3 linked regions of the Homo sapiens genome follow. The main gene of each other region encodes a partner of the protein of the gene in region 3 in a complex. Each region holds a gene or a part of one and is shown on either strand. Other genes may lie near its edges.

Region 1 (5,390 bases), on a different chromosome or scaffold from region 3:
ACATCAGAAGTAAATTCATCACTACTGAATTTGGAAAGCATAATCAAGAAAGACCCATAACTTTATTGGGACTACACAACTTTGCACAGTGCTAGGCACTATGATTCTAAAAAAACGAACAACTGAAGCATGCATGAAGTTCTTCAACTTCAGGGAATCCATGAACCTCCCCAAACAGTACACAAGTTGTGTAGTGTAGTGTGTACATTTTTTTCTGGGAAGAGGTCCTCTAATTTGAATTAACTTCTAAAGGGGCCCAGAGACGCTAACAGTACAAGGTAGAATTCTAATCTGTTTCTTTAGATTTTTAATAATAATGGGAGCTGTAGACTGCAGGAAGTTCACTTTTGCACATCTGAGAGTCAATTTTAATGGAAAGAGGGTAGAAAACAAACAAGAGTTAATTTGCAAGGACTGGGCAGAAAAAAAAAATCCAGAGGGTTGTTTTCTGAGTTTAGGAACATGTTCTGGTTTATAGAGAGGAAATGGAGACATACGTGCTAATACCAGCGGGAAGCAAGGAGACTCCAAAGAGATTCTTCAAGTCCTCAGAAAAGCCAACCTTCAGTATAAATAAAGCAATATCAAGAATTTAAAATGCAATTTAACTCAAGTCCAATTTTCAGTTTCTGCATATTATCAACTCATTTTTATTGATGAATATCACAAACTTCAATCAATACTCTTAAAAATATTATTCTGCATGCATTTAACAAATCTGACAAAAGAACAAGTATCCAGTTTACTTGCATTGTAACTATGACATTTTAACTAAACAATCAATTAACATATATTTAAAACCATTAGGTACAGGTAACAATGAAACACTTCAATGCTTTAATCTGATGGCATCCTACCACTATGCACATGTTCATGTAACACTACTAGTAATTACCCTGAAGCACAGGCAAATGTAGATGGAGGACTCTCCCTAAAAAGCAAGTTTAAGGGATTAAATATCATCGTCATCATCATCGCTACTGAGAATAAAGCTGCTGCCAGTGGATAGGGGCCCTTCTTCAACACTCCCAAAACCACCCAAAGTCCCCCTCTCATCAGAATCGTCAAACAACTTCTCACTGGAATCTTCCTCCTCATCAAACAACTTCTCATTGGAATCATCATCTTCGAACAACTTTTCGTCAGCATCTTCAACTTCCTTTCCATCTGCATCTTCATCTTCCTTGTCATCTGACTCTTCAAACAGCTTTTCATCTGCATCACCTTCTTCCGCCTTTTTATCAGCAGCTTCAAGCCCCTTTTCATCTGCATATTCTTCATCCTCTTTCTCATCAGACTCATCATCAAATACTTTTTCATATGTATCCTCCTCTTCTTCCTTTTCATCTGAATCTTCGTCAAACTCTCTCTCAGAGCCTTCCTCATCTAACACTTTTTCAGAGCCGTCATCTTCAAATTCGGAGTTTTCAGAGTCATTTTCTTCTAACTCTTTGTCAAGAACATTTTCATGAAGCTCCTTTTCAGAACCTTCCTCGTCCAAATCTTTCTCGAGACCATTTTCTTCAAATTCTCTTTCGGAGCCATCTTCAGACTGTTTTTCAGAGCAGTCTTCATCAGACTCTTTCTCTGAGTCATCTTCTTCGGACTCTTTTGTGGGGCCAACCTCCTCTTCAGACTCCTTGTTGAGGTCATCTTCAGATTCCTTTGCAAGGCCATTCTCTTCACAATCATTTTTGAGTGTCTTCTTTTTAGACTCTTTTTTAGGACTATCCTCTTCAGATCCTCTTACGGGATTGCCTTCTTCAGACTCTTTTTGGGAGCAGCTGCCTTCAAACCCTCTTTTGGGGCAGCCCTCTTCAGATTCTTTTTCAGGGCAGCCTTCTTCAGCCTCTTTTTCGGGGCTACTTTCCTTAGCATTGTTTTCAGAAGCACCTTCTTCAAATTCTCCCCCATCTTCTGTCTTTTCAAACTTCTTCTCATCTATAGGTTCTTCAAACGCCATTCCAGTTGCAGTTTCTTGAGCATTCATTTTAGATGTGCTGGGGTGCTCTGAAAAATGCCTTGCTCTAGAAGGCCCTGCCCTTTCGGAAGCAGAGACAGAATCTGAACGCCTAAGGCCTCTGTTGGCCTCAGGAGCATTGAGGAAAGCCTCCCATCCTCTCAGCCTTTCCTCCCTTTCTCTTGAGGTTTCCTCCACCTGTGGATAAATGGAGACTGCCATTAAAATAAGTTTCAGGCAAAAGGTTACTTCTCTGAACATATCTAATATTGATGAAACAACCTTAATTTTATAAAGCATCTCTTATTAGGAAATGAAAGCAATTCCATCTTCAGTTTTCAAAACTTTACATCTTGATTTACTAGAGTTGACCTTAAATAAGACCACTTAAATAAAGGCCAAATATCACAGTACTGCAGAAATGTCTCATCTCTTAAAAAGTTAATATTTGAGCTCTGTCTATACTTTACAGCATACAAAGGAAGAGTAACATTTGGTTGAATGTGTTCTTTTCTTATCACTATTCTGAACAAGCCTCAAACTTTCAGACTTAGAAACTGAAAGACTCAAACATTTCTCTATCTTCTGAATGCAAAATATTATTTAAAAGCAGCACTGTAAATAATTAAGAGGAAGAGTAAAAAATTAAAATATATAAGTAAATAAAAATAAAAGAAGCATTGTTACATTAAATAGGTTAAACCAAACCCAAAATTTAGATCTGAAGGATCAGTATTTGTTGGTAATGAAACAATGTGTGTGCCCTTGACAAGCAGCAAAATTTACCTGATAATCTGTAGTCCCATCCCATGCCTGGGCAGTGATTTGACGGCCACCAAACCATCTTCCATCGAGAGTCTGAATACAATAATCAGCTTCCTCTGGATCCCGAAAGGACACAGAGGCCACACCATCTGGGTGCCTCTAGAAAGATAAGAAAGAAAAAAAAGGAATGAATGATAAGATTAAAAATAAAACACATACATTTCACAAAGTAGGTAAGTAGTAGTGTTCTCTCTGATACTCTGAAGTAAAAGACTTTATGTATGAAGTCTTTCTTCCATTTTATCCCAGCCAGTCACGTGCAGTCAGCTGCTTCTTTACCTCAATCTTACCTAGCAAGAACCAAGCACAATGTCCTTGGAAATGTTTCTGCTGACATCCCTGTCTAATGAGAAGCAGGACAGTATAATTGTTAAGAGTGTAAACTCTGAAGTCATATTGCCCTGGGATTAAATCCTGGCTCTGTCAGTTACCAAATGAACAACCTTGAGCCAGGTGTTCAATTTCTAAAGTGTTAGCTTCCTCATCTGTAAAATGGGTGTAATAGTGCTAACCTGCCTCAAAGGGTTTTGAGAAGTGAGATAACATGTAAAGTAGCTTGTAATACACAAGCAATAAATGGTGACTCTTAATTATTGGGTGTCAATTCTGGAAGTAAAAAGAGGATGAGAAGAGGAAATATACAGGAGAATATTGTCCCTGATTGTTCCAAATATGGAGGATGAGAATAATTCACAAAGAGGGGAAAATGTGACTAATAGGGAACCAGAGATCTCATACATTTTTCCTGTACCTTCTTTCACCTGATCATGTACTCTAGGGTAATGAAGACGGAAAATAAGCAAGGCATACCAAATCTATCAAATCCTTGGCTTGTAATCCACGTTCATCTCATTATTGCTAATAGATGATTATCACAAGATAGTGGACTACTATATAAAAACATTAATCTAAAATTCAGGGGTATACTAACATCTGAGAAGAACTTATAAGGTGGAGGAATTATTGCTTTAGGATCCATATGTCCAAGCCATGAACTTACATCAAAGAGAAGGAGTTTCCTAATTTGTCCAAACTTCGAACACTCTACTCGAAGGTCTTCTCTGATCTCATTCAGCACCAACGGATCATCCTGAAAAATATGCATGATTAAAATGGGTTTGCTCCCTTCTTTAACTATAAATCCTGAGAATCCAATTTCTTGTTCTGATAAATCAACAAACAGAAAAAGGTTTTGCTTAAGGTTGTGTTTTTCATTCTATACAATTTTTTAAAAACTCAAAATCAAATAAAATTATACTACTACATACACTGCTACTCCTATAGGTTTGCCCTGCTTTAAACAAAGGAAATGGACAAGTATGGCAGGCAGCAGAAGGGGCCTACAGTGGCAGAGCAGGAGAAGATGGTGGAAGTCCTGTGGCGCATATTCAGTCAGACTGCTAATTCCTATGCTCTGCATGGGCATCAACATCACACTGATAAGAGCCCTTTGCTTTGTGTTTTGGATACATTCCTATTTACAGAAATGTTGTAATGGAGAGAGAGAGAGCAATATATCCCTTTTATTGACTAAGTGTCCTAAGATTGATTTTTGTGCTTCCAAGATGCTATTTTAACTCACAGAATAAACATCGTAAGGATTACTGTTCGTCTTGTCTCCTACCACATTGTAACAGAACCATACAAATAAGGAGCTGTTATTAAGCATGCAATAAAATACATTCTTAGCTGTTGCTTTCTTGCAACTATGAGCCTATTAAGAACATTCAAGTACTGCTGTTTCTAGTAGCCTAGAGTTCGGGTGGAAATCTCCCTATAACAACAAAATGATTTAAGATTCCCTCTGGGAATTAACAAATCTCTCTCCAAGTACCAATGCATAAAAAGGGCTCAGGAAAAGCTACATTATCAGCTTGAATTTCAACTATATACAAATATAAATGAAGATATCCTATCTACAAATTTCTATTGAAGGTGACTTATACTTTCTAGGAAACATTTAAGCGCATCTATCTTTCTTACACGCTTTCATTTTTCTCATCAGCTAAAGAGGAACTATAGAGAATTGTGGCTTTCCTCCCATAAGGTTCTTCAAAAAGCAAAAATAAGCTGGCAGGGAGTTACTGAAATCTGATTTAAAATAAAAAATATAAAATCATACTCATTTGCATAAATCTGAGGCTTCTAAAACTACAGTTGGCAGAACTCTGGACTTCCCCACTTATAAAACTCAATTTTGGAGAAGCAGCCAATTTGCTTTATACAAAATGATCAGACCTGAGAAGAATAAGGAGTAGAGAATAAAAGTTATGGCTTTTGACATGTGTGTGTGTGTGTGGGGTTAGCTCCTATTAGAGTGAGTGCTTTCAGAAGGCAGGACCTTTGTTTTATTGAGTTTCAGATACCTCACAGAAAATAGCACAGACTTTTGTACAAAGCCAATATTCAAGAAAATCTTTTTAAGAATTTGATAAACTGTTTCTAATACCTCTCTTTTATTCACCAAGGAAAATCAGGATTATATCAAAAACAAAAAAAAAACTGTGTCAACATGTTTAACAACTTTTAAATTGAAGCGTGATTCCATGGTGGGGGTAGGCATCACCTCCATTTCTACACCAATGTCTCAGTGCTTTGCTTTCTT
Region 2 (7,135 bases), on a different chromosome or scaffold from region 3:
GACTTAGCACATACTGACTGCAAAGGCTCAATAAAAATGTGTTGAAAGAATGAAAAAGCCCTTGTAAATGAAAGGTATGGTAATATGTTACAAGTAATGAGATGTGTGATCAAAAATTCATCTGCTTAACGTATTAACAAAGGTAAGTGCTGTCCTTTATTTTTATTCTCCAGTATCTTCCCCAAACAACATCTTATTTTAGACATCAGTTGAAGTGCAAATGATTCAAAATAGAACTAGATCAGTTTTCCCCAAGCCTGCTGAAATGCAGATGACCACAAATGTAGCTGTACTCATTTAGTCTTTTAATATAATCAATTAGTAACGTGTATTTTCCAATGGTGAACTGATTTCCAACCATGAAAATATTTTCCATTTTTTAGCTCCTCCAAAAACGTTACTTAGCTATGTGCATTTAAAACACTGAATCTGATTTGCTGGAATGTTAGCTTTTCCTATCTACAACCGTATGAACTAGCCTGCAAATTTTTTTTGTTACTGTCCATCCCTAGTTTTGATACTGTAGTCATACTAGACTCAGAGAGCGGCACAGTAGCATTTACTCTTTTTCTACTCTAGAGAAATCTGTTTTACTTTTTTTTTTAATATTTACTTTTTCATTGAGACAAGATCTCACCTTGTTTCCCAGGATGGTCTCAAACTCCTGAGATCAAGTGATGCTCCTGCCTCAGCCTCCTAAAGTGCTAGGGTTATAGGCGTGAGCCACCATGCCCAGCCGAGAAACTTGTTTTAAAACGGAATACATATATGTCCCTCAACAAGAAGATAAAAGCTTTCCTGAAAATCCTGGACCTCAATCTTTTGGGAGAGTGACTTTGGACTACTGCTTCAATTTCTCTAACGCTGGTCTATTGAAGTTCTTAATTTATTTTTGGATCAATCTGGTAATCGTCTTCAAAAATATTTCTATTTTGTTTAAGTTTTCAAATTCACAAGTTCCATCTTGTGGGGTCTGTCCATTTTGTTTGGCTTTTGAAAGAGTTAGGTTTGAATGAGAGGCAAAGACTGACTACAGCCAAACTGTCACAGCAACTAACAGTAATCAATATTCCAAGCTGACTGCTCCCTTCAACTTCTCTTCCCTGCCCTCAGTAGAATATGAGTTATTAAGGAGCTAGGCAGTCTTTATCCCCAACACTTTTTAAAATCACTCCACCACATGAACTTCTAACCTGTCCAAAAGATAAGGTATTCAGGTTCACAACAAATGGATTAATTCCCAAACCCTTTAAGTAAAACCTATTAGGTTTGGGCATAAAATGAACCAAGTAAAAGGGTACAAAGCAGCTCTGAAAGAAAAGTACCTGTAATAAGGAAGTTGCCGTGTTCCTCCAAAGGTTCACTGTATTTTCGGACCACATGATTTAAACCAAGGTCTAGCTCATAGAAAGTAAGTGTCTGCTGGGTATTAGCTGCTGCTTCCCCTGTTGGATCATTGTCTGCTTCCTACAGAGAATAGTGGCATAAAAACTAATCATCAGCATAAAATCGAAGATCTGGAAAGGACATCAGGACTCCAATTTACAAATGAGGAAACAGAAGTCCACAAATGTCTTCTTTTTTTTTTGGAGAGACAGGTTCTCACTATGTCACCCAGGCTGCAGTGCACAGAGGTATGATCTTTTTTTTTTTTTGAGACGGAGTTTTGCTCGTTGCCCAGGCTGGAGTGCAATGGCACGATCTCAGCTCACCACAACCTCCACCTCCCAGGTTCAAGTGATTCTCCTGCCTCAGCCTCCCGAGTTGCTGGGATTACAAGCATGTGCCACCACGCCTGGCTAATTTTGTATTTTTAGTAGAGATGGGGTTTCTCCATGTTGGTCAGGCTGGTCTCGAACTCCTGACCTCAGGTGATCTGCCCGCCTCGGCCTCCCAAACTTGGATTACAGGCGTGAGCCACTGTACACGACTGCAGTGGTACAATCTTATCTCACTGCAGCCTAGAATTCCTGGGCCTCAGGCTCCCAAGCAGCTAGGACTATAGGCACATGCCACCACACCTGGCTGACGCCAAATAGTTTGACAAAGTTTATGCTATAAGATAATGGCAGAGCTAGAACGAGAACTGCAATCTCCAAATTCTGGATCCAGGGAGCTCTCTACTAGAGGATACTGCCTTCCGTTAAAGGAAAACAATAGTATGTTCTGTGAAAAAATACCTTAAACATAGCTTCAAGTTTTTCATGAAGCTTTTCCCAATAAATATCTTGTTTCCATAGGGAGATTACTTAAATCAGAGAAAGACTATTAAATAGTTGCTTAACCTCTGAAGCATCCCAAAGAATTTCAGTAAGGCATTTGGAATATGAAGATCTGCTAGCAGGACAGAATTAAGATATGCATAAGGGGCTGGGCCTGGGTGAGGTGGCTCAGGCCTTATAATCCCAGCACTCTGGAAGGCTGAGGTGGGCCAATCACCTGGGGTCAGAAGACCAGCCTGGCCAACATAGTGAAACCCCATCTCTACTAAAAATACAAAAATTAGCTGGGCGTTGTGGCAGCACCTGTAGTCCCAGCTACTCAGGAGGCTGAGGCAGAGGTTGCAGCGAGCTGAGATTGTGCCACTGCACCCCAGCCTGGGCAACAGAGCAAGACTGTCTCAAAAAAAAGAAAAAAAGGTATGCACAAGGAAGAAAACGATCTTTTCGTTTTTTTTTGAGATGGAGTCTCACTCTGTCGCCCAGGCTGGAGTGCAGTGGCGAGATCTCGGCTCACTGCAAGCTCCACCTCCCGGGTTCACGCCATTCTCCTGCCTCAGCTTCCCGAGTAGCTGGACCACAGGCGCCCGCCACGATGCCCGGCTATTTTCTTTTTGTATTTTTAGTAGAGATGGGGTTTCACTGTGTTAGCCAGAATGGTCTCGATCTCCTGACCTCATGATCCGCCAGCCTTGCCTCCCAAAGTGCTGGGATTACAGGCGTGAGCCACCACGCCCGGCCGGAAAACAATCTTAAAAAAAAACACTGAGGTGACTGAAAGAAACGCAAAGAGACAGGGTCCCCATTACCTCATAATCCATTTCCAGACAAGCAAACATTGGATTTTCAAATCCGACATCTACTCCAACTACATGATACACTAAAGTGTTTGCTTTGTGGGCTTCCAGGGGAGATGAAATGGTAAGTCGGGCTGCAGCATCTCTGTTCAAAATATACACCAATTTCTGTTTCTCAATGGCACCTGTAGTTGAAGGAGATAAAACATACAAGATTCCCAGATAATGAGAAGAGAGACTTATAGAACAGCTAGAGTCACATCATGCTTTTCTTTTAATCATTATTAACAGCAGTAACTCTACAAGTATAAAAACTCAGGATTCTGTTTTCTATCATCAGAATAGCACTTTGGGAGGCTGAGGTGGGTGGATCACCTGAGGTCAGGAGTTCAAGACCAGCCTGACTAACACAGTAAAACCTTGTCTCTACTAAATACAAAAAATTAGCTAGGTGTGGTGGTGCATGCCTCTAATCCCAGCTACTTGGGAGGCTGGGGCAGGAGAATTGCTTGAACCTGAGACGCAAAGGTTGCAGTGAGCTGAGATCGCACCACTGCACTCCAGCCTGGGCAACAAGTGCGAAACTCTGCCTCATTTGAAAAAAAAAAAAAAAAAGAATAGACAATAGTGGAGCTGGGCACAGTGGCTCAAGTCTGTAATCCCAGCACTTTGGGAGGCCAAGACAGAAGGAAGGATTGCTTGAGCCCAGGAATTCAAGACCATCCTGGGCAGCATTGTGAGATCCCCATCTCTCTCTTATTTATTTATTTATTTATTTATTTATTTATTTATTTATTTATTTTTGAGATGCAGTCTCACTCTGTCGTCCGGGCTGGAGTGCAGTAGCGCTATCTCGGCTCACTGCAACCTTTGCCTCCCGGGTTCAAGCGATTCTCCTGCCCCAAGTAGCTGGGATTACAGGCACCCACCACCACACCCAGCTAATTTTTTGTATTTTTGGTAGAGACTGGGTTTCACCATGTTGGCCAGGCTGGTCTCAAACTCCTGACCTCAAGTGATCCTCCCACCTTGGCCTCCCAAAGTGCTGGGATTACAGGTGTGAGCCACCGCACCTGGCTGAGACCCCATCTCTTTTAAAGATAAATAGCCACCGTGCCCGGCTGAGACCCCCATCTCTTAAAAATAAATAAATAAATTTTTTTAAAGACAATGGCATCATTGTGGCCCCCTTCTTCCTAATACAGGTCTTAAATATCCCACTAACTAGTCAAAATTTTTTAATGAGTCCTACATTTAAGGATACTGAAAAACAGTAATTCATAAAATTATCATTAGCCTTATTCTCTGAAATAGATCTAACGATTTATGACTGCCCTCTAGAGGCCTGATCAGACACACAAAAATTTTCTTCAAGAATTTATCAGAGAAGAGACATGAATGTGAATCATCACTTCAGGCTGATGAAAGCAACGATATTCACTGTCTAATAACATAAGATCATTTCATTGTAGTCTTTTTGCCAAAGAAAAAGAAATTGAAAAACACCCATTTCCAACTAGATGGGAAGTAGAAAGGTGTGTTAAGATTTTTCCCATTGTTTTAAAAGAAAATGCAACTCTTTTAAAAAGGAAATGCAACTTTAAACCTAGAGTAAATCCAAACATGATGCCAAACCCACATAAGTAATTAATTGGCACTGGCACACCACCAAGAGCACAGCATTGTTATCCTAAACTAGGCATATACAGCAAGTAGAGTAAATCACTTACTAATCATAACGGCTCGCCCTTTGGGATCCACAGCTAAGAACTGGCCAGGAACGATGCGACGGCATCCACTCTTGCCAAAGGTTTCTTGGTGAATCTTCTCAAACATATTCTTAGATGGCTGGTATTCCAAAATAACAATTCGACCAGAGTCACTGCCAACTACAATGTAGTCTTTGGTGCCACCTGTCAGCCTAAAGGCCATGAGTGACCGGATAACACCGAATACTTCCACAGTGAGTAGGGTATGTACTTTGCCAGTGTTGGGGTCTGGGCGAAGCAGCTCCAAGATCTTCCCACGGGAAACAACAATTTCTTGTTGTTTGGTTCCTAGATCACCAAAAAATAAAGATCATAAACAACCAGAACCCAGCCTGGCCACCATGGTGAAACCCCGTCTCTACTAAAAATACAAAAATTAGCCAGGCGTGGTGGCACATGCCTGTAATCCCAGCTACTCGGGAGGCTAAGGCAGGAGAATCGCTTGAACCCAGGAGGTAGAGGTTGCTGTGAGCCAAGACTGTGCCACTGCACTCCGGCCTGGGCAACAGAGCAAAACTCCGTCTCAAAAAAAAATTAGTCAGGTGTGATGGCCTGTGCCTCTAGTCCCAGCTACGTGGGAGGACAGTTTGAACCCAGGAGTTCAGAGAATGTAGTGGGTTATAATCCTGCCATTGCACTCCATCCTGGGAAACGCAGCAAGATATCGTCTCTAAAAAAAAAAAAAAAAAAAAAAAAGGCCACGCACAGTGGCTCACACCTGTTATCCCAGCACTTTGGGAGGCTGAGGCAGGCAGATCACTTGAGGTCAGGAGTTTGAAACCAGCCTGGCCAACATGGTGGGATCCCATCTCTACTAAAAATACAAAAATTAGCCAGGTGTGGTGGCACGTGCCTATAATCCCAGCTACTCCAGAGGCTGACACAGGAGAATCGCTTGAACCTGGGAGACGGAGTTTGCAGTGAGCCGAGGTCGCACTACTGTACTCCAGCCTGGGCAACACAGCAAGACTACGTCTCAAAAAAAAAAAAAAAAAAAAGAAAACTTCTCCATCATTTTAGATAAAAAGGAAGACTGAATTGGAAAAGGAATTTGAAAGATAAAATTAGTATTAAAAATGTGCTTTCAGCAGGGCACAGTAGCTCATGCCTGTAATCCCAGCACTTTGGGAGGCTAAGGTGGGTGGATCACGAGGTCAGGAATTCGAGATCAGCCTGGCCAATATGGTGAAACCTCATCTCTACTAAAAATATGAAAAATTAGCCGGGCATGGTGGTGCACGCATGTAATCCCAGCTACTCAGGAGGCTGAGGCAGGAGAATCGCTTGAACCCAGGAGGCGGAGGTGGCAGTGAGCCAAGATCACACCACTGCGCTCCAGCCTGGGTGACAGAGCAGGACTCTGTTTCAAGGAAAAAACAAAAACAAAAACAAAACAAACAAAAAACAAAAACAAAACAAACAAAAAACAAAAACGTGCTTTCAAAAATTCTATCCAAACTCCAGCTGAGATTCATTGCATTACATAGTGAAGTCAGTCACAAATCTCCAAATTCCCATATACGTATTTCCTTAATCAAATGCAGCAAAGAATAACTAAATTACCCAAATGAAGACTCAAACCCGCAGGAAGAGCCATAATGAGGATCAGAGAAAATAACAACATGAAATATGAATGCTGTGTGGTCAGTTAGGCTGCCTCTCAGTACCACATTAAGTATTCAGTACCACATTAAGTATTCAGAGTTAAACCTCAACAAAATTATGTCTTACTCTACACAATCATGAACCTCCTGCATTACTTGGATTGACTCAAAAATGTTAAATCTGCAAATGGCAAGAAAAAGTTTTTATTTTATAAACATTAGTACCTCACTTTCAGTAACTTTGTATTTCCTAATCCAATATTTGAAATTTCACACAATTCAAACCTAGCCTTAATCCATCTTTACAAAAATATTCCCCACATGGTAAACGTAAGCAAATTATCTGTTTCTATGCAGACAGCACTCCCTACCTAAACTGCATTTTCCCTTTTCTCTCATACAAAAGTTCTATCTCTTCAAGCACCAAACCAAGGTCCAACCTTCCCTTTATTTAAATTACTCTCTGATAACCAGACAAACACCTTCAGACATTCTTTTTACCCAACCTGATGTCAAATTCAAGATCAAAGATCAGGTCTTACACATCTCAGTATGTCTTACAGCAATAGGCACACGACTTGGCACTAGGTAAGCAGCCAAGAAAAGTGTGCCCTGACAAGAATCATTACACAATTTGTGAACTAGGAAATGCATCTGAAATAGGTAACAGATAATGCACCAGAACTTAACACCTCATCTCATAATTTGAATTGTTTACATTTACCAACAACTGTTTTGTCATAAAT
Region 3 (2,683 bases):
AGTGCAGTGCCACTGGGGTGGGGGTGGTGAAACTTTACTGCCATGGAAATAACCAGGGCAAAAGATTGGTGTGAGGCAGAAGGCTAATTCAAGTTGGGATTTTTTTTTTTTTTTTTTTGAGACGGAGTCTCGCTGTCACCCAGGCTGGAGTGCAGTGGCGTGATCTCGGCTCATGGCAACCTTCGCCTCCTGGGTTCAAGTGATCCTCCTGCCTCAGTCTCCTGAGTACCTGGGACTACAGGTGCATGCCATCACGCCTGGCTAATTTTTGTATTTTTAGTAGAGACAGGGTTTCGCCATGTTGGCCAGGCTGGTCTCCAACTCCTGACCTCAAGTAATTTGCTGCCCTCGGCCTCCCAAAGTGTTTGGATTACAGGCATCAGCTACTGCGCATGGCCTGAGTTGGAATTTTTAAAAGTAGATATATTAGCCAGCCTGCCTCTGCATGGGATGAGTGCGGCACTGGTTCTTGGTAGGTTTTTAGAAAAATAAGATATAAATGTGTAATATAAAGAAAAAGATTAACATTTTTTTAAAAAGTAGATTTATTAAAAAACAGTTGAAGGTCTGAGTGTTGAGAGGCAAATGGGGTCTCTGGGGGATCCTGTCCTGCAGCAGGCCTGACTTTCAGATGACTGTGCTTATAAGGCAGATCAGTGCCTTCCTGGTTGCCTTAGTTCTTTCCATTTCAGACACCACATTTGGATCCTGGGGCAGCTGCTCAACTCTACCCAACTCTACCATGGCTACCTGGGATTGGAGAACATGTGAGTATTAGCTACTTTTACAGTCAAATAGGGATCTTGTAGAAGAAACAGGTAGACAGACCCACCAGTCTCTCATTCTGACCTAGCAAGCTGGTGAAGTCACTGTCGGTCCTAGTTCCCTTGTTTGTTGGGCTGCAGGCCCATTCCAACACAGCCCAACTCCCCCCCCCCCCCCTTTTTTTTTTTTTGAGATGGGGCCTCACTATATCGCCCAGGCTGGTCTCAAACTCCTAGGTTCAAAGGATCTTCTAGCCTCAGTCTCCTGAGTAGCTGGGACTACAGTGCGTGCCACCATGCCTTTTTTTTTTTTTTAATGAGACAGGGTCTCACTATGTTACCTAGGCTAGTCTCAAGCAACCCTCCTGCCTCAGCCTCCCAAGTAGCTGGGACTACAGGCACAAGCCACTGCACCCAGCTCCAACTCCTTTCTTTATGCAAATACAAAAGGCAAACCTTGGTGCGACACTTAGTCCTTAGTAGCAACCCTGGCTCATCCTCCTAGTCTTTCCCTAGTATTTGCATCAATGGCTAACTAAGCTGATGGCAGACCTCATCCTGGGGTAATACTCATTCAGGGAAGCAGCAACAAAGGAGGGTGGGGAAAGAGGTCAGGTCAGATTTACCTAACATGATATGTAGCATAATAGGTGCCCATTAAATCTCAGCTACTAGTAAAGTTGGTGAGGAAGAGGTATGGAGGCGTTAAGACCTGAAGCACTGAGTTGGTCCATAACCCTGGGCTTTAGAACAAGGTCTGGTTTTATTTTCTGGCAGAATCTTTTAAAATATAAAACAGATAAAACACATCTCAACCCTGCAATCTGCCAGCATGCCTTGTTTCTACAAGATGCATGCTAGACCATGAGACTACATAGCAAAGGGTCTTTAAGAGGATTTGGTTGGGAGAAATAGAAAAAGCAGATCTTAGGGAAGCCTGGGCTAGCCCAAAAGCTGAGCTACATCCCTGAACACTAGAGCAGTCCTTGTCTTTTCAGATCCTCGTATGTCTTCTTATTCACAACATTCCCACTTGAGTCTTCATATTCTTCCTGAAAAGGAAGGGGTACACTTTGTTAGACAGCTCTCCTAAAAGAAATGTTTGGAACCAATCTCTAAGTACCTGAGCTCATCCTGGCCTGATTCCATGGCATACTCTGGTACACTAAGATTGGCATTCATCTAAGCCTTTCTCAACTGGGGTTCCACAAGAGAATTAAGTCCCACTGCCCCAAAGCAGCCACCGTGTGCAATGAATTAACTTCTCTCGTAGACATCTAGAATGATATCAGTCATGACCCATCATTAGAGTATCTGAGAAAATAGTTTATTTAGCTCTCTATGTTTAAGATGGGGAACCCTGGTTGAGAAAGGCTGACCTACAACAGCAGTTTTCAAATGGTTCCCAAGAATCCCAGGATTCTGCTCAGAGGCCATTGCAGGGGTTGAAAGGGAAGCCAGGAAGTCTGAGCTTCCCCATGTCCAGGGCAATTCTGCTTGATTCTATTTTATATATCAGAGTACTATATTACAAGTGGAAGAGAGTTTTGCTGCCAAAAAGAAAAAAAATACTGAAAACCACTGACTCAAAAAAAGGGAGGCTATTGTCAGTTACTATGGGACTTGGAGTGAGTCAGTACCATTCCTTACATACATGTCATTCTTGATCTCTGAAACCTGCTGCTTGGGATGACCATCATAAGACCAACAAGGACATCTCCCTGTCGCTATGAGAGTATCATCTCTCATTAGATGCTTTCCTCAAAGGAGATCTAATACATGATACAGAGTCTCGGCATTTTAGTCTATAAATCTCCATGGCAGAACATGAGATTGGGTACTCCCACTTGCCATTTCAACTTTTTTTTCTTTTTTTTTTTTTTGTGAGGTAAGTTCTTGCTCTGTCACCCAGGCTGGAG

What was found.
Region 1: SF3A3 (region 3) and HTATSF1 share a complex: the UniProt entries of both Homo sapiens proteins name them as parts of the 17S U2 SnRNP complex.
Region 2: SF3A3 (region 3) and SF3B3 share a complex: the UniProt entries of both Homo sapiens proteins name them as parts of the 17S U2 SnRNP complex.

The regions. Positions count from the first base shown.
Region 1 is NC_000023.11:136,507,576-136,512,965, reverse strand, and holds the end of HTATSF1 (17S U2 SnRNP complex component HTATSF1), read right to left. Parts: intron 3,876-5,390; coding exon 3,786-3,875; intron 2,885-3,785; coding exon 2,747-2,884; intron 2,159-2,746; coding exon 953-2,158; 3' UTR 620-952; downstream 1-619. UniProt on the Homo sapiens protein: Component of the 17S U2 SnRNP complex of the spliceosome, a large ribonucleoprotein complex that removes introns from transcribed pre-mRNAs.
Region 2 is NC_000016.10:70,526,811-70,533,945, reverse strand, and holds part of SF3B3 (splicing factor 3B subunit 3), read right to left. Parts: intron 5,074-7,135; coding exon 4,747-5,073; intron 4,448-4,746; exon of another isoform or gene 4,347-4,447; intron 3,202-4,346; coding exon 3,029-3,201; intron 1,468-3,028; coding exon 1,326-1,467; intron 1-1,325. UniProt on the Homo sapiens protein: Component of the 17S U2 SnRNP complex of the spliceosome, a large ribonucleoprotein complex that removes introns from transcribed pre-mRNAs.
Region 3 is NC_000001.11:37,956,448-37,959,130, forward strand, and holds the end of SF3A3 (splicing factor 3A subunit 3), read right to left. Parts: intron 1,817-2,683; coding exon 1,739-1,816; 3' UTR 528-1,738; downstream 1-527. UniProt on the Homo sapiens protein: Component of the 17S U2 SnRNP complex of the spliceosome, a large ribonucleoprotein complex that removes introns from transcribed pre-mRNAs.